Regions from separate parts of the Homo sapiens genome. Here region 2 is linked to region 1. The links come from fine-mapping of genetic effects on plasma protein levels. A gene starts in region 1. The other region holds a variant in brackets. All regions are shown on one strand. Distances are between the middles of the regions.

What was found. A credible set is the group of variants that fine-mapping cannot tell apart. PIP is the posterior inclusion probability: the model's chance that the variant is causal. The UK Biobank Pharma Proteomics Project read protein levels with antibody pairs (Olink). The fine-mapping took linkage between variants from a reference panel, not from the people measured, so its PIPs are less certain.
Region 2: its variant is the best candidate, but not a certain one, in a credible set for the plasma level of the RTBDN protein (UK Biobank, PIP 0.62).

The regions. Positions count from the first base shown.
Region 1 is chr19:12,833,201-12,838,499 of GRCh38, forward strand. RTBDN (retbindin) reads right to left here and starts at 1,379. Exons shown (of 6, transcript NM_001270441.2): 1 at 1,289-1,379. RefSeq lists enhancers at 1-141, 1,337-1,866 and silencers at 4,928-5,111, 5,116-5,295.
Region 2 is chr19:12,817,008-12,828,921 of GRCh38, forward strand. It overlaps RTBDN (retbindin), which reads right to left. Exons shown (of 6, transcript NM_001270441.2): 3 at 11,862-11,914; 4 at 11,650-11,760; 5 at 9,768-9,864; 6 at 8,475-8,926. The coding sequence ends at 8,699. It overlaps RTBDN-AS1 (RTBDN antisense RNA 1), which reads left to right and starts at 8,726. Exons shown (of 3, transcript NR_187779.1): 1 at 8,726-8,905; 2 at 9,778-9,885. RefSeq lists a cis regulatory region at 8,124-8,924, an enhancer at 8,493-9,269 and a silencer at 11,518-11,677. The variant G/A (reference allele first, on the strand shown) is at 4,448.

The DNA.
Region 1 (5,299 bases):
GAGGTTGCGTCTCCTGTGAAGACGGGTCTCCTCAGTGAAAATGTTTCTCTGTAAGCATGAGATCTCTCCTGGGGCTGTAGAGGTCTCGTGGGTGGGGACAGTTTCCCACAGAGGATATGGCTTTTAGGGGTCTCTGATTGGGGGTATCCTTTACACGGGAATTGTTACTCCTGGGATCTTTCTCTTCGGGGAATGCCTCTTTCGTGGGGAGGGGGATGGCTTTTGAGAGGAAAGTCACCTCTCAGGGACCATATCTATTAGGAATGATTTTCAGGGTTGGGGGAGTTCTTGATTGGACAGGGCGTCCCTGTGGAAACTATCTCCCCCTGGGAATGTGTCTCACCAAGGGGGTCTCTGGGGGATGAATGTAGAGGGAATGTATCTCAGGGAGAAGGCTTCCTTTGGGGTGTTTCTTGACTGAGGGTTCTACCCCTGAGAATATCTCTCCTCTGGGGTGTCTCTTTTTATAGTGGTCTCTCGGCAGCTTGGCTCCCATGGGGGCACCAGGAGGCTCCGCCCCCCCGCCCGCCCCTTCCCCCCGCCAGCGCGGGCAGCGGTGGCTGAGCCCGGGCTCGGGCGCCCAGACGCAGTGACGGCGCCGGGCCCGCCCCACTTCGCTCCGCCCCCGCCCCCGCCACCCCTCCCCTCAGCCGCCGCCGCCGCCGCCGCCGCGGTCCCCGCGGCTTCTCACTCCCTCCCTCCTCCCTCCTCCCGCCGCCGCTACCTCCCTCCTCCCTCCCCGGGCCGAAGTCGCCGCCGCTGCCGCCATGGACGATTCGGGCCTCATCCGCCGCCGGAGGCTGCAGGTACGCGGCTGCCTGGGCCCCGGGTGGAGAGGAAGGGGTCGGCGCCCTGGGGCGGGGCTGGGCAGGAGGCGGGAGAACTTGCACTAGGGTCAGCCGGGACGCCCCCACCCATAGGTTCGGGACGCTAACCGCGGGGAACGCTGTGGCCGCGCGTCCCGCCGCGCTGGGGACCCCGCCCCTCAGGCGCCGCCCGGCGATCCAGGGAGCTGCCGGAGGGGTGCAGCCTAGCGCTCCCCCTCGAGGATCGCCTGAGGGGCGCCTGGCCCGCCCTAGGGGGATGGGGCTGGGGCCGAAGTCATCGCCCTGGCGCCTCGCCAGGCTAGGGGTGAGGGGGCGCAGAGCAAAGTTATTGCCCTAGGGCTCATGCCCCTCGGGGCCATCGGCGCCGCTGGAGGCGTAAACATGTTTGTGCGGCAACCTCGCCCCTCACCACCCCAGGAGCCCCCTCCCGAGGCATAGGACGCCCTGCGTCCCCCACGCACCTGCCTGGCCATCAGGATTCTTCCTACTGCCCTAATTGGACAGGCACCTAGACAGCTTTCTCACTCTTCATTCCACCTCCTCCACTACAACATCCGCCCCCCCACCGCGATCCTCAAGTCCAGCCCAGCTTGTGGGTGGGCGGGAGCGATTTTTAGCTCCTTGCAGCCTTAGAAGATGCTGGTCTCGAGGCTGCGCAGGCGCAGGAGCCGTGCGTCCACTGCACGGAGTGGGACACTGAGGATCGCTGTGGAGTGTGGGGAAGGCGGGGACAAACTCAGGTGTCAGGAGCTCCTACCTCCAAGGTGGGGAGGGATTCTGTAGCCGAGAAGCGTCCTCTGCTCGTCTTCAGCTGCGTTTCTGAGGGGTTAGTACGGAAGTTCAGGGTTAATACGGAGGTCCGGTCCCAAACATCCCAGAGGGGAAGGTGATGATATCTGTGCCCCAAGGCCCTGCCTGGGGTCTGGCCCTTCTGAGCCTCCTTGGGGCTCAGCCCCAGGCTTGGTAATCTGGAGTTTAGATAAAGCCGAGAATGGGCCCAGACTCAGGCTCCATCCCCAGCCTGAATCTTGGGAAAAGAGGATTCAAACCCTCACCTAGGGCTTCGTCCATTTCTAGACTCCCCTAATCCATCATTCCCGAGGTTGAAGGCCAAGGGGAGCTGATTGGTCAGTGCAGCAGGAAAAATGGTGATCAGACTGCAGGAAGGACCTTCCAGGCGTCTGGGTAACGCCGGAGCCAGACATGAGTTGGAAAACTAATTTGCTTTCAGAGCCCAGATGGCCCGATCTCCGGAGCCTAGGCCTCTCTGAAGTGCTCCCACATTCTCTCCGCCTCTCGGGGGTGGGTTAGGAGAGTGGGTTCCGAGAGAAGGGAGGCAGCTGCGGCAAAGTTAGAGCAAGTACTGCAGCAGCCAGGTTGGGTCCGCGCCGTCGGGTTTCTGAGAAAAGGGAGGAAAGAGGCGGGGCCTGCACGGTGTGTCCCCGCCCTCCAGGCCGGCGTCAACTCTCATTGGCTCAGCGCCACGCGGGACTTTAAACTCCCGCTCGAGACACCGCCCCCAACGCGGAATGCTTCCACTCACCCACCCACCCACTCAACCCCAGGCTTGCTCTGGGTCCGGCGATCCCTGTCGGAGTCCTGTCCCCACCGCTTCCCTTCTGGCGGGATTAACCACTTCGCTGCCTGGATACACCCACATACGTTGGTGCATCCTCTTAGGAACTGTCGCATCACTGCTGAGCGCCCGAGGGTCCCCTGTGTGCAGCTAGGCTCTTTTTTTTTTTTTTTTTTTTGAAACGGAGTCTCGCTCTGTTGCCCAGGCTGGAGTGCAGTGACGCAATCTCGGCTCACTGCAACCTCCGCCTCCCGGGTTTAAGAGATTCTTCTGCCTCAGCCTCGCTAGTAGCTGGGATTACAGGCTCATGCCAACATGCCCGGCTAGTTTTGTATTTTTAGTAGAGAGTGGGTTTCACCATGTTGGCCAGCCTGGTCTTGAACTTCTGACCTCAGGTGATCCACCCGCCTCGGCCTCCCAAAGCGCTGGAATTACAGGCGTGAGCCACCACGCCCTGGGATCTTATATGTAGACAGCATCCTGAGTTCGAATGCCCTGTCTGCAGTGTCAACTATTAATCCTGTGCGGGAGAAGCGGAATCCACTTGGCCGAGCGGCTCTGCAGCTGAGATTGGAGGTGGCGTCTGTTTACACTGACGCCAAAGACCCGAACTTCCGCCGCTCCAGTTTGACCCTTTCTTCGTCCCTAGAATGTTTGGGGGCGCTAGCGGGTGGGGCTGGGTTCCAGGTCTTCTTCGGGTGGTGCTTAAAAGCCCTCCAGGGGCTTACCCTCCAAGGCCGGTTACCCGGATCTGGACACCCTGGGCTCTGTGGCCAGAAAATCCAGGTCTTGATTTCGCTTGGGCCATTGCAGACACGCAGCCAGGTCGACTGGTCCTCATTCACTCCGGTCATGCAAAGACAGAGGGAAAACCTGGTTTGGATTATCGGTCACCCGTGGCTCGGGAGGGCAGGGCTGCCCTTTGGCCCCGCCTATATGTTTGTCCGTTGTACAACGGGGTGGGAGGACGCTGTGGCCCATCCTCTGTCATGCAGCATGTCCCTCCTTAATAACGCCTGTTCTCCAGACTTAGTATTTATTGAGCACTTGCTATGTGCTAGGCACCATGCTAAGGGGCTAGGCATCTGCATCAACTCCTAAGATCCTCAAGGAGACACGGGACTATTGGAAGGTCATTTGCCAAGGTCATAAAAAGCAGAATTGAGATTTGAACCTAGGCTTTTTGCTTTTAGAGATCCTAGAAATGTCTAGGACATCCCTCATTTTCCTTTTGTTGGAGTCCCCTCCAAAGGCCTTTTGAAACTCTCCCCCAAATCTTTCCACCTGCAGCCCCACTCAGTTTCCTTCCTTCCACCTCACCCTGTGGATAGAAAACTGGCTGGCAGGTGTTGCCCCTTGTACCCCATTCCTTTCCTCAGAAAAAAGCCAAGACCCCATATCTCCTGATCCCTACAGTGACTTCCTAAGAGCTTGACAAATGGAAGGTGACCTTCTTCAAATGCAGACACATAAAGTTAATACTCACTAATTATTATTATTGTCATTATAAAAAATGACTATGCGGCCATCACCTGAATTTCCATTTTTATTTTTTTATTTTTTAAACTTTTTATTATTTATTTATTTATTGTTAATTGAGAGGGTGTCTTACTCCAGCAGTGGTGCAATCATAGTTCACTATAACCTCGACCTCCTGAGCTCAAGAGATTCTCCCACCTCAGCCTCCGTGGTTCCCATTTTAAATCTCAGTTGTGAGTCACTCTACTTACCTACCCCCCACCCCCTACCCCAACTCTATGACTCTAGCTGGGAGTCAGATAGATCTGCTGAGGTGTAGATGAGTCATTCATTCTTTCAACCTTTCATTCATTCAACCTTTCATTCATTCATTGAGTACGCTAAGCTTATTCCCGCCTCCAGGCCTTTGCCCTTGCAGTTCCCTCCACCTGGAATGCTCTCTCCACAGATCCTCCCATGGCTGGCTCTTATCTTTCAGCAACCAGCTTAAAAGTCACCTCCACAGAGCAGCCCTGTCTGACAATGTGTCTCCATCCTAGCCATTGTCCATCACATCACCCTGTTTAATTTATTCATAAGACTAATTATTGTCTAAAATGATTTCGTTCACTTCTACACTAATCTTGTTTAATGTCCCCTTTACCCTATAAATACTAGTCCCAAAAGGCCAGAAACTTTTTTTTTTTTCTCCTTGAGACAGAGAGTCTTGCTGTGTTGCCCACGCTGGTGTTTCCTTGGACTCAAGCGATTCTCCTGCCTCAACCTCCCAAGTAGCTGGGACTAGAGGTGCACACCACCACACCGGACTTGTAATTTATTCACTACTGTGTCCCTAGTGCCTAGGATTGGGTCAGCATACAGTAGGTGCTCAAGACATATTTTTCAAATAATGATTCCTATTTCATTTGCACAAACACACGCTGATATGCCAACTCACTTGCCTTTATATGGCGCCCCGCCTGTGTACGTGGGCCTCTGTTGGTCTCTGAGGGTCAGGAGAGGAATCACCCAGGGATCCTCTCCCCCAAGAAACTTGGCCCGCAGTGCATGGCCAAGGGTGAAAGTGACAGTGCTGAAGAGGGGCCTGTCTTACCCTGCTTCTGCTCCTCCAGGGAGTTGATAATGCTTGTGGGCAGCAACGGCAGGTCCACGCTGACCTTCATCGTTTTGCCCCTTTGCCTTCCAGAAGGATTTGCCCCTGCCCCGGAAAAGCAGCAGGTGAGCCTGGGGAGAGACGTGGCGGGGGCTGGCCGCCCCTTCTCCCGCCGGGGTGGGGGCGCCAGGCGAGTGCGCGGGCGGGGCCTGGCTCGCCGGCACGCAGCAGCGCCCCCTCCCGGCCGGCTGCAGCCGCAGGGCCCTCCCCTTCCCTGCCCTCCCCTGCCCGCTGCGGCGGCTGCAGCCTCCGCCCCGCGCGCTT
Region 2 (11,914 bases), 13 kb before region 1:
GGTTGCAGTGAGCCGAGATTGCGCCACTGTACTCCAGCCTGGGCGATAGTCAGAGACTCAGTCACAAAAAAAAAAAAAAAAAAATTTGGGCTGGGTATGGTGGCTCACGCCTGTAATCCCAGGACTTTGGGCGGCTGAGGCGGGCAGAACACCTGAGGTCAGGAGTTTGAGATCAGCCTGGCCAACATGGCAAAACCCCGTCTCTACTAAAAATACAAAAATTAGCTGGACATGGTGGCAGATGCCTGTAATCCCAGCTACTCAGGAGGCTGAGGCAGAAATGCTTGAACCTGGGAGGTGGAGGTTGCAGTGAGCCAAGATCGTGCCATTGCGCTCCAACCTGGGCAACAGAGTGAGACTCCGTCTCAAAGAAAAAAAATTTTTTTTATAGAGATGGGGGTCTTGCTATGTTGCCCAGTTTGCTCTCAAACTCCGGGCCCAAAGGATCCTCCCACCATAGCCTCCCAAAGTGTTAAATTGTTGAGATTACAGGCATGAGACACAGTGCCCGGCCAAGTGTCCTAATTTCTTATTGTCATTGAATTAGAGCTCACAAATATGACCTCATTTTACTTTAATTACCCCTTTAAACACGCTCTTTCCAAACACAGTCACGTTTTGACATGCTGGGGGTTAGGACTTGAACATATGAATTGGAGGAGACCCATTCAACCCATAACAGAGCATTTCTCCACTCCACGCAAATTCTTTGTAGGACGCAGAAGCCAGCACTGCACCAGCCAGCCAGAATCCCAGAACTGTCCTTTGACAGTGGAGGCTAGAGTGCCCAGGAATGCATGATGGGGGACCCAGCTCTGATCTGGGGGTCTCAGAGCCTGAGGAACTGACTGGCAGAGGTCTGCGGGGTGAATGCGGTGGAATAAGTGACTGGAGGATGGAGGGGGTTCCAGGCATTGGGCACGTGTTGAGGCCTAGAAATGGGAGACCTGGCTTCAAGAAGGCCCGAGAGGCCAGGCGCCGTGGCTCACGCCTGTAATCCCAGCGCTTTGGGAGGCCGAGGTGGGCAGATCACGAGGTCAAGAGATGGAGACTATCCTGGCCAACATGGTGAAACCTCATCTCTACCAAAAATACAAAAATTAGCTGGGTGTGGTGGTGGGTGCCTGTAGTCCCAGCTACTCTGGAGGCTGAGGCAGGAGAATCACTTAAACATGGGAGGCGAAGGTTTCAGTGAGCCAAGATCATGCCACTGCACTCCAGCCTGGTGACAGAGCAAGACTCCGTCTCAAAAAAAAAAAAAAAAAAAGGGCCCAAGAAGAGGGCAGTGAGAGTAGGCATTCGGGAGGAGGTGTGGTCTCCACCCAAGAGACACCCTCTATCCAACCCTCGTCTTGTTGTTATTATTTTGTTATTTGACTTAAAAGCTTATTTTTCTTTTTCTTTTGAGATGGAGACTCACTCTTGCTCCGGCTGTGTTGCAGTGGCATCTCGGCTCACTGCAACCTCCGCCACATGGGTTCAAGTGAGCACATCCGGCTCATTTTGTATTTCTTTTTTTTTTTTTTTTTTTTGAGACTGAGTCTTGCTCTATCGCCCAGGCTAGAGTGCAATGGCCCAATCTCGGCTCACTGCAACCATTGGCTCCCTGGTTCAAGCGATTCTCCTGCCTTAGACTCCTGAGTAGCTGGGATTACAGGCACCGACCACCCCGCCCAGCTAATTTTGTTTTTCTCTTTTTTTTTGAGATGGAATCTTGCTTTGTCTCCCAGGCTGCAGTACAGTGGTGTGATCTTGGCTCACTGCAACCTCCGCCTCCCGGGTTCAAGAAATTCTTCTGCCTCAGCCTCCCAAGTAGCTGGGACTACAGTCACATGCCACCATGCCTGGCTAATTTTTTGTATTTTTAATAAAGAAGGGGTTTCCCCATGTTAGCCAGGATGGTCTCAATCTCCTGACGTCGTGATCTGCCCGCCTTGGCCTCCCAAAATGCTGGGATTACAGGCGTGAGCCACTGTGCCCCGCCTTCTTTGACTTTTTGTAGACACCAGGGGGTGGGTCTTGAAGTCCTGAGCTCAAGGGGTCTCCTGCCTTGGCCTCCCCAAGTGCTAGGATTATAAGTAAAAGCCACCAGCCACCATGTGCAGCCTGCAAATGTTACTTCTTTTTTTTTTTTTTCTGGAATAGAGCCTCACTCTGTCACCCAGGCTGGAGTGCAGTGGTGCGATCTCAGCTCACTGCATCCTCTGCCTCCTGGGTTCAAGCAATTCTCCTGCCTCAGCTCCCGAGTAGCTGGGATTATAGGAACCTACCACCACACCCTGCTAATTTTTGTATTTTTAGTACAGACGAAGTTTCACCAAGTTGGCCAGGCTGGTCTTGAACTCCTGACCTCAGGTTATCCACCCGCCTCAGCCTCCCAAAGTGCTGGGATTACAGGCATGAGCCACCGCGCCCGGCCTGCAAATGTTACTTCTAACAACAGCCTTTGAATTTGTGAGAACTCAGTGCTGGGTCCCCGTCCCAGCAGCGTGAAGCTCACACGGGAGTTGGAAAGAGTCCAGGGTTCCACACTGGCCTGCTGAAGATCCCGAGTGTCATGTTTTTGAGGTTTTTTTTAAGAAACAGAGTTGGCTGGGTGCGGTGGCTCACGCCTGTAATCCCAGCACTTTGGGAGGCCAAGGCGGGTGGATCACCTGAGGCCAGGAGTTCTAGACCAGCCTGGCCAACATGGTAAAACCCCATCTCTACTAAAAATACAAAAATTAGCCAGGCCTGGTGGCAGGCACCTGTAATCCCAGCTACTCCAGGGGTTGAGGCAGGAGAATTGCCTGAACCCGGGAGGTGGAGGTTGTAGTGAGCCGAGATTGCGCCTTTGCACTCCAGCCTGGGGGACAAGAGTGAGACTTCGTCTCAAAAAAAAAAAAAAAAAAAAAAAAAGGCCGGGTGGCTCACACCTGTAATCCCAGCACTTTGGGAGGCTAAGGTGGGCGGATCACGAGGTCAGGAGATTGAGACCATCCTGGCTAACATGGTGAAACCCCATCTCTACTAAAAACACAAAAAATTAGCCAGTGTGGTGGCGGGCACCTGTAGTCCCAGCTACTCGGGAGACTGAGGCAGGAGAATGGCGTGAACCTGGGAGGCGGAGCTTGCAGTGAGCCGAGAATAGCGCCACTGCACTCCAGCCTGGGCTAAAGAGCAAGACTCCATCTCAAAAAAAAAAAAAAAAAAAAAGGGTCTCAGCCAGGCACAGTGGCTCATGCCTATAATCCCAGCACTTTGGGAGGCTAAGGTGGCGGATCACGAGGTCAGGAGTTAAAGACCAGCCTGGCCAACATAGTGAAACCGCTGTCTCTACTAAAAAATACAAAAATCAGCTGGGCGTGGTGGTGAGCGCCTGTAGTCCCAGATACTTGGGGAGGTAAGGTGGGAGGATCACTTGAGCCTGGGAGGTTGAGGCTGCAGTGAGCCGAGATTGCACCACTGCACTTAAGAGCCTGAACAACAGAGTGAGACCCTGTTTTAAAAAAACAAAAACAAGGCTGGGCACGGTGGCTCATGACTGTTATTCCAGCACTTTGGTAGGCCAAGGCAGGTGGATCACCTGAGGTCAGGAATTCAAGACCAGCCTGGCCAACATGGTGAAACCCCGTCTCTACTAAAAGTACAAAAATTAGTCAGGCATAGTGGCAGGCACCTGTAATCCCAGCTAGTAAGGAGGCTGAGGCAGGAGAATAGCTTGAACCTGGGAGGCAGAGGTTGCAGTAAGCCGAGATCGTGCCACACTGCACTCCAGCCTGGGTGACAAGAGCGAGACTCCGTCTCAAAAAACAAAAACAAAAAACCTATGGCTTTCACATGTTTCCTTTTCTAAATGAGGTCCTGAGTATGTGGGACTACAGGCACAAACCATTGCACCTCGCTAATTTTTTTTGGTTTTTGTTTTTTTTGGTAGAGATGAGGTCTTACTATGTTGCCCAGGCTGATTTTGAACTCCTGGCTTCAAGCAGTTCTCCTGCTTCAGCCTTCCAAAGTGCTGGGATTTCAGGCGTGAGCTGTCCTACCTAATTTTGTCCAGCCTAACTTTTTTTTTTTTTTTTATTTTGGAGATGAGGTCTGGCTATGGTGCCCATGCTATTCCCAATCTCCTGGCCTCAAGCAATACAGTCACCTCAGCCTCCCAAGTAGCTGAGACTGTAGCCCGAACTGCCAAACCTTGCATCACACCCTCCTGTCTCTCTCTTTTTTTTTTTTTTCTGAGACACGGTCTCCATCTGTTGCCTCAGCTGGAGGGCAGATGATGGCTCACTGCAACCTCCACCTCCTGGCTCAAGTAATCCTCCCACCTTCAGCCTCCCAAGTAGCTGGGACTACAGGTGTGTGCCACCATGCCCAGCTAATTTTTTTAATTTTTAGTAGAGATGGGGTTTTGCCCTGTTGCCCAGGCTGGTCTGGAACTCCTGACCTCAAAGAATTCATCTGCCTC[G/A]GCCTCCTAAAGTGCTAGAATTACAGGTGTGAGCCACAGCTCCTGGTACATCACACTCTATCCTCAGGTTCAAGTGTCTCTGCCTGGCATCCAGTGTCTTCCAGGACCAGATCCCATCTCCCATGGTCTATCCCAGGCTTCCTGGTCAGCTCAGAGTTCCCAGAATATGAAATCTCCAGGCCTTTCACTTGGAATGTCCTCCATGGCTTGATTATCTGACTGGAGATCCTTTAAAGACTTGCTTTACTTCCTTGAATGCTTGTTCCTCCTCCTTGTCACAATAACACAGTCTATAACATCAGTAACCCAGTATGTAACATCATCCACCAGAAGCAATCATAATAGACGGTCTACATTCATTGAGTGATAATTGTGTGCCACACTTTCTAAGCATTTTATTTGACATCCCCCCCATTGGAGGTGGAGTCTATGATGCCTCTCCTTGAATATGAGCTGGCTTCAGTGACTCACTGTAGTGAATAAAAAGTGAGAGATGTCACACTGTGTGAGTTCCAAGGTTAAGTCATCAGAACTGAAACAGATCCCACCTGGCTTGCTCTCTTGGGATATTTCCCTTAGACCGTAGCTGCCATGTTGAGAGGAAGCCCAAGCCACAGAGAGGCCATGTGCAGATATTCTGGCCAACAGCCCCAGCAGAAGTTCAAGGCAACAGCCAACACCAACTACCAGATATGTGAGCAAGGAAGCCTTCAACGTGATTCCAGCCCCAGCCACTGTGTCTGCAAGTATATGACAGATCTTCAGGAAGAACTGCCAAGCTGAACCAAGTCAAACCCCAGAACCATGAAAGATAGTAACTTTTTTTTTTTTTTTTGAGATGGAGTCTCGCTCTGTCACCCAGGCTGGAGTGTAATGGCGTGATCTCGGCTCACTGAAACCTCTGCTTCCTGGGTTCAAGCAATTATCCTGCCTCAGCCTCCTGAGTAGCTGGGATTACAGGCATGCGCCACCACACCCGGCTAATTTTCTGTATTTTTAGTATAGATGGAGTTTCACCATGTTGGTTAGGCTGGTCTCGAACTCCTGACCTCGTGATCCACCTGCCTCGGCCTCCTAAAGTGCTGGTTGTTGTTTCTTTTTTTTTGTTTTGTTTTTTGAGACGGAGTCTGGCTCTGTTACCCAGGTTGGGGCGCAGTGGCATGATCTCGGCTCACTGCAACCTCTGCCTTATGGGTTCAAGTGATTCTCCAGCCTCAGCCTCCTGAGTAGCTGGGATTACAGGCACGCACCACCATGCCCAGCTAATTTTTTATTTTTAGTAGAGACAGGGTTTCACCATGTTGGCCAGGCTGGTCTTGAACCCCTGACCTCAGGTGATCTGCCCGCCTCGGCCTCCCAACGTGCTGGGCTTACAGGCATGAGCCACTGCACTCAGCCGATAATGACTTTTTTTTCTGAGATGGAGTCTTGCTTTGTCGCCCAGGCTGGAGTGCAGTAGTGTGATCTCAGCTGACTAAAACCTCTGCCTCCCAGGTTCATGCCATTCTCCTGCCTCAGCCTCCCAAGTAGCTGGGACTACGGGTGCCTGCCACAATGCCCGACTAATTTTTTGTATTTTTAGTAGAGACGGGGTTTCACCATGTCAGCCAGGATGGTCTCGATATCCTGGCCTTGCGATCCGCCCGCCTTGGACTCCCAAAGTGCTGGGCTTACAGGCATGAGCCACCACGCCCAGCCTAGTGACCTTTTTTTCATCACTATATTGGAATTGTTTGGTATGCAGTGTTAGATAAGCAGAAAAACTTGCACTAACTCACTGAATTCTCCTTTCTCAATCCTGTGAAAGGAATGCATTTCCGTTTTATTTTATTTATTTTATTGTAATTTTTCTTTTTGAGACAAGGTCTCACCCTGTTACCCAGGCTGGAGTGCAGTGGTACTGTCTCAGGTCACCACAACCTCCACCTCCTGGGTTCGAGTGATTATCCTACCGCAGCCTCCCAAGAAACTGGGATTATAGGCATGTGCCACCACAGCTGGCTAATTTTTTTTTTTTTTTTTTTGAGACAGATCCTTGCTCTGTCACCCAGGCTGGAATGCAATGGCACGTTCTCTGCTCACTGCAACCTCCACCTCCCAGGTTCAAGCGATTCTTCTGCCTCAGCCTCCTGAGTAGCTGGGATTACAGGTGCGCCCCACCATGCCTGGCTAATTTTTGTATTTTTTAGTAGAGATGGGGTTTCTCCATGTTGGTCATGCTGGTCTTGAACTCTTGATCTCGTGATCTGCCCGCCTTGGCCTCCCAAAGTGCTGGGATTACAGGCATGAGCCATCGCACCCGGCTGCCTGGCTAATTTTTGTACTTTTGGTAGAGACGGAGTTTCGCCATGTTGGCCAGGCTGGTCTCGAACTCCTGGCCTCAAGTGAATGAACCACCTGCCTCGGCCTCCCAAAGTGCTGGGATTACAGGCATGAGACACCGTGCCTGGCCCACATTCCCATTTTAAAGATGAAGAAACTGAGGCTCAATCTGGGCAACGTGTGAAACCGAAGTTACAGCATAAGTAAGTGGTAGAGCTGGGTTGTGAACACAGGTGGACGCTACACGGGGTCATTCCCACCAAATTCTGTAGTCTGTACATGTATAATATGGGGTCTTGGGCAGGAATGGTGACTTGTGTCTGTAATCCCAGCACTTTGGGAGGCCGAGGCAGGTGGATCACCTGAGGTTTCGCCAACATGGTGAAACCCCATCTCTACTAAAAATACAAAAATTATCCAGATGTGGTGGTGTGTGCCTGCAATCCCAGCTACTCTGGAGGCTGAGGCACGAGAAGCACTTGAACCCAGGAGGCTGAGGTTGCAGTAAGCCAAGATTGCACCACTACAATTCAGCCTGGGAGACAAAGCTAGACTCTGTCTCAAAAAAACAAACAAACAAACAAAAAAAACGCCAGGCGTGGTGGCTCACACATGTAATCTTAGTACTTTGGGAGGCCAAGGTGGGTGGATCCCCTGAAGTGAAGAGTTTGAGACCAGCCTGGCCAACATGGTGAAACCCTATCTCTACTAAAAATACAAAAAATTAGCTGGGCTTGGTGGCAGGTGCCTGTAATCCCAGCTACTAGGGAGGCTGAGGCAGGAGAATCACTGGAACCCGGGAGGAGGAGGTTGCAGTGAGCTGAGATCCTGCTATTGCACTCCAACCTGGGCAACAAGAACGAAACTCAGTCTCAAAATAAATAAATAAATAAAAAGCTGGGATCTGGCTTTTGCCCAGGCTGGAGTGTAGTGGCAGGATTATAGCTTACTGTAGCCTCAATGTTCTGGGATCGAGTGATCTTCTTACCTCAGCCTCTCAAGTAGTTGGGAGTACAGCACATACTACCAGGGCCAGCTTGGTATTCTGTGTCTGCATGTCTTATTATTATTATTTTTTTTGAGAGAGAGGCTCTCACTGTGTCACCCAGACTAGAGTACAGTGGTGTGATCGTGGCTCACTGCAGCCCTGAACTGAGCTCAAGCGATCCTCCTGCCTCAGCCTGCTGAGCAGGTAGGAATACAGGCACGGGTCACTACACTGGGCCAATTAAAAATATTCTTTTTCTTTTTCTTTTTTCTTCCTTTCTCTCTCTCTCTTTTTTTTTTTGTGGAGACAGGTTCTCACCGTATTGCGAAGCCTGGTCTTGAACTCCTGGGCTCAAGCAATCCAACCACCTCAGCCTCTCAAATTGCTGGGATTACAGGCATGAGCCTCTGCACCTGGCCTTGAAGTGTGTCTTGAGGCCTATACAAGTTAGGCAGCTTCTTGGCAGCCCTGGTGGCACACAGTGGGAAGGAACCCCTCCTGCCCTTGTCAGCCCCTGTTCTGACCCCCTCTCCATTTCCAACAACTGGGTATTCCCAGTTATGTTGACTGCTCTAGGGCACAGGCTATCTATCATTTACACTCTAGTATGAGTCAGTCACTACTTCTAGGGTCTGAGGATTAGACGTGAGACATCCGTTACTTTCTGGCAATTCTCCTTCCGACTTATTTCCCCAAGAAGCAGCCACACTCGTCACGTGCTCTAGCTGGCGACTTTATTCAAAGGGGAGAGGGAAAAGTGAGAGAGTTGGGTCATTTCTGGGATAACCTGGAGAGGGGTGGGTCTCTGGAGCTCCAGGGAGGAGGGACAGACATCTCAAAACTATTACAGAAGGCCGAGAGGACGAGGGGTGGGGTTCTGGGTGTCCTGAGGGGCGGGGCTGGGGGAAGGGTCGCTCCCCCAACTCAGGGCCACGCGTCCGCTAGGGGCCGCTGCCGCTTCCACTGCCACTCCCGCTGCCCGCAGCGTCCAGGATGGAGGTGCGAGGGCTGCGGGAACGCCGGGAGGGAGCTTCCCGGCCCCGTCGTCCTGGTCTGGGACGAGGTACCGCGGAGATGGAGATGTTGAAGCAGTGACGGGCTCCAGGAGCAGCCACCGGTAGGGCGTGGCCCAGAGCCGAGCGACAAAGGTCCGTCCCGTCTGCGAAGGTCTAGGAAAAAGTGGAGTTAAGGCCCTAGTGGGCGGAGTCCAGAGACGTGGGGGGCGTGGCCTCGGGAAGGGAAAAATGTGTAAATTCCTTAGGGATTGGGGTCAGAGCCGGAGCGTGCGGCCTGGGAGTCTATGTGCGGAACGTGAGTGGGGGCAGGTCCTTGGGGAGGGTGAATGTTCTTACTGGGCCCTAGCGGGATGAATCAGGGTTGGGGCAGTTGGGGGGCGCGCAGAGAGGTCTGTATCAAGGCTGGGGTTTTGTAGAGAGTGACTGGGCTTCTGGGTCCTCCAGGGTAAAATGTGGATGGACCCAGAGCAGGAATGGTTTCTTGGGAAGGGCAAATCTGGACTTCGAGAGCTTTTGGGGTCAAAGGGCACAACCCAGTAGGAGGTTGGGCTAGGGAAGGGTGGGAGCAGGGACCTGGGGAGTACCAATCCGGTCTCTGGGGTCTAGACACGGTAAGAAAGAACTTGGTGGGGGCCGGGGGCGGTGGCTCACACCTGTAATCCCAACACTTTGGGAGGCCGAGGTGGGCGGATCACCTGAGGTCAGGAGTTCGAAACCAGCCTGGCCAACATGGTGAAACGCTGACTCTACTAAAAATACAAAAATTAGCTGGGCATGGTGGCATGCGCCTGAAATCCCAGCTATTCGGGAGGTTGCGGCAGGAGAATCACTTGAACCCCGGAGGCGGAGGTTGCATCGAGCTGAGATCGCGCCACTGCACTCCAGCCTGGGTGACAAGAATGAAACTCCGTCTCAGAAATAAATAAATAAATAAATAAATAACTTGGTGGGGAGGATCTCAGTCTCTTCCCTTCACCTTCTGCCCCACGCTCACCTGTCCATAGGTAAGGCAGCTGGGCTCACAGCCCCTTTTTTCTGAGAGTGGGAGCCAAGTCGGGCCGCAGGTGATATCATCTTCGCAGTTGGCGAACCTGGAGATGGCGAGTGGAGAGGTGGGTAAAGCCTTTGTAGTTACATTCCAGCGCGATTCTGGCTCTTCTAGACTGTGTTCACTATATGCCCCCACCTCGGATCCAGGCCCCGCCTTTTAGAACCACTCCCCTGCTAACTAACCCCATCTCTCCAGATTTCACCCTGCCCCATATTCTATCAGATCTTTCCATACTCTGGGCCACGTCACAACTGGCCTTGTCCCTACAGACCTCAGACCATTAGTTACAGGCCAGTCCCTCATATTTTCCCACTCTTTCGTTTTCCTTTTATTTATTTTTGAGTCAGGGTCTTGCTCTGTGACTCAAGCTGGAGTGCAGTGGCGTAAGCATGGCTTATGGCAGCTTTGACCTCCCAAGCTGGAGCAATCCTTCCACCTCAGTGTCTCAAGTACCTGGGACTATAGGTGCGCACCATCATGTCCGATTAATTTTTTTTTTTTTTTTTTTTGAGATGGAGTCCTGCTCTGTTACCCAGGCTGGAGTGCAGTGGCCCAATCTCTGCTTCCTGCAACCTCTGCCTCCCAGGTTCAAACAATTCTCCTGCCTCAGCCTCCCGAGTAGCTGGGATTACAGGCGCCCACCACCACGCCTGGCTCATTTTTGTGTTTTTAGTAGAGACGGTGTTTCACCACGTTGGCCAAGCTTGTCTCAAACTCCTGACCTCAGGGGATCTGCCCACCTTGGCCTCCCAAAGTGCTGGGATTACAAGCATGAGCCACTACGTCCGGCCCATGTCTAATTAATTTTTAAATTTTTTGTTGAGACTGGGTCTTGCCATGTTCCCCAGGCTGATCTTGAACTCCTGGCCTCAACCAATCCTCCTGCCTTGACCTCTCAAACGACTGAGATTACAGGCACCCACCCTTTTACCTTATCTTTTCAATCAAGAGGACTCACTCCTTAAGAAATCTCAGGGCCTGGCTGGGCATGGTGGCTCACCCCTGTAATCCCAGCACTTCGAGAGGCCAAGGCAGGCGGACCACCTAGGTCAGGAGTTTGAGACCAGCTTGGCCAACACGGTGAAACACCGTCTCTACTAAAAATACAAAATTTAGCCGGGCGTGGTGGCGGAAGCATGTAATCTCAGCTACTAGGGATGCTGAGGCGGGAGAATCACTTGAACCCAGGAGGCTGAGGTTGCAGTGAGCTGAGATCGTGTCACTGCACTCCAGCCTGGGCGACAAGAGCAAAACTCCATCTCAAAAAAAAAAAAAAGAAAAAAAGGCCGGGCACGGTGGCTCACGCCTGTAATCCCAGCACTTTGGGAGGCCGAGGCGGGCGGATCACGAGGTCAGGAGTCTGAGACCAGCCTGACCAACATAGTGAAACCTCGTCTCTACTAAAAATACAAAAATTAGCCGGGCATGGTGGTGTGCGCCTGTAACCACAGCTACTCAGGAGGGTGAGGCAGGAGAATCGCTTGAACCCGGGAAGTGGAGGTTGCAGTGAGCCGAGATTGCACCACTGCACTCCAGCCTAGGTGACACAGTGAGACTCCATCTCAAAAAAAAAAAGAAAGAAAGAAAAGAAAAGAAATCGCAGGGCTATGAAAAGCCACATTGCCATATGGCAGGTATCTTAAAAGCTGGGGGCTTCTCATGCCTCGCCCCTATCTACCTGGGCTCTAAACATTAAGCTGCATCTCTTAAACCTTGGCCCTGTTGGAGGCCACTCCCCTTTACACAGAAGGCCAAGCAAACTGCAGGCTCCGCCCTCTTCCCCGCCCAAGTCACAACCCACGCCCCTTGCCCCCGCGTCTCCTACCAGGCCTGGCAGAGCTCCTCGCAGAGCGGCTGTGCCTGGCGTACCCCCAATAGCCGCAGGCGGAAGCGACTGCGAAGGGCACGTTGGAGGTGTTCCAGGAAGGATTCGCATCTGGACGTTGGGAGAGATAGGGTCGGATGGGTCAGGACCCGAGGGAGTTCCTGGGCAATGGGCAAAGTACGCGAGAAAACGGTGGAGGGTGCTGTACTCACTCAGGGCTCGGCACTCCACAGCGTTCTGGATGGTTTCCAGGGCCCGATGTCTC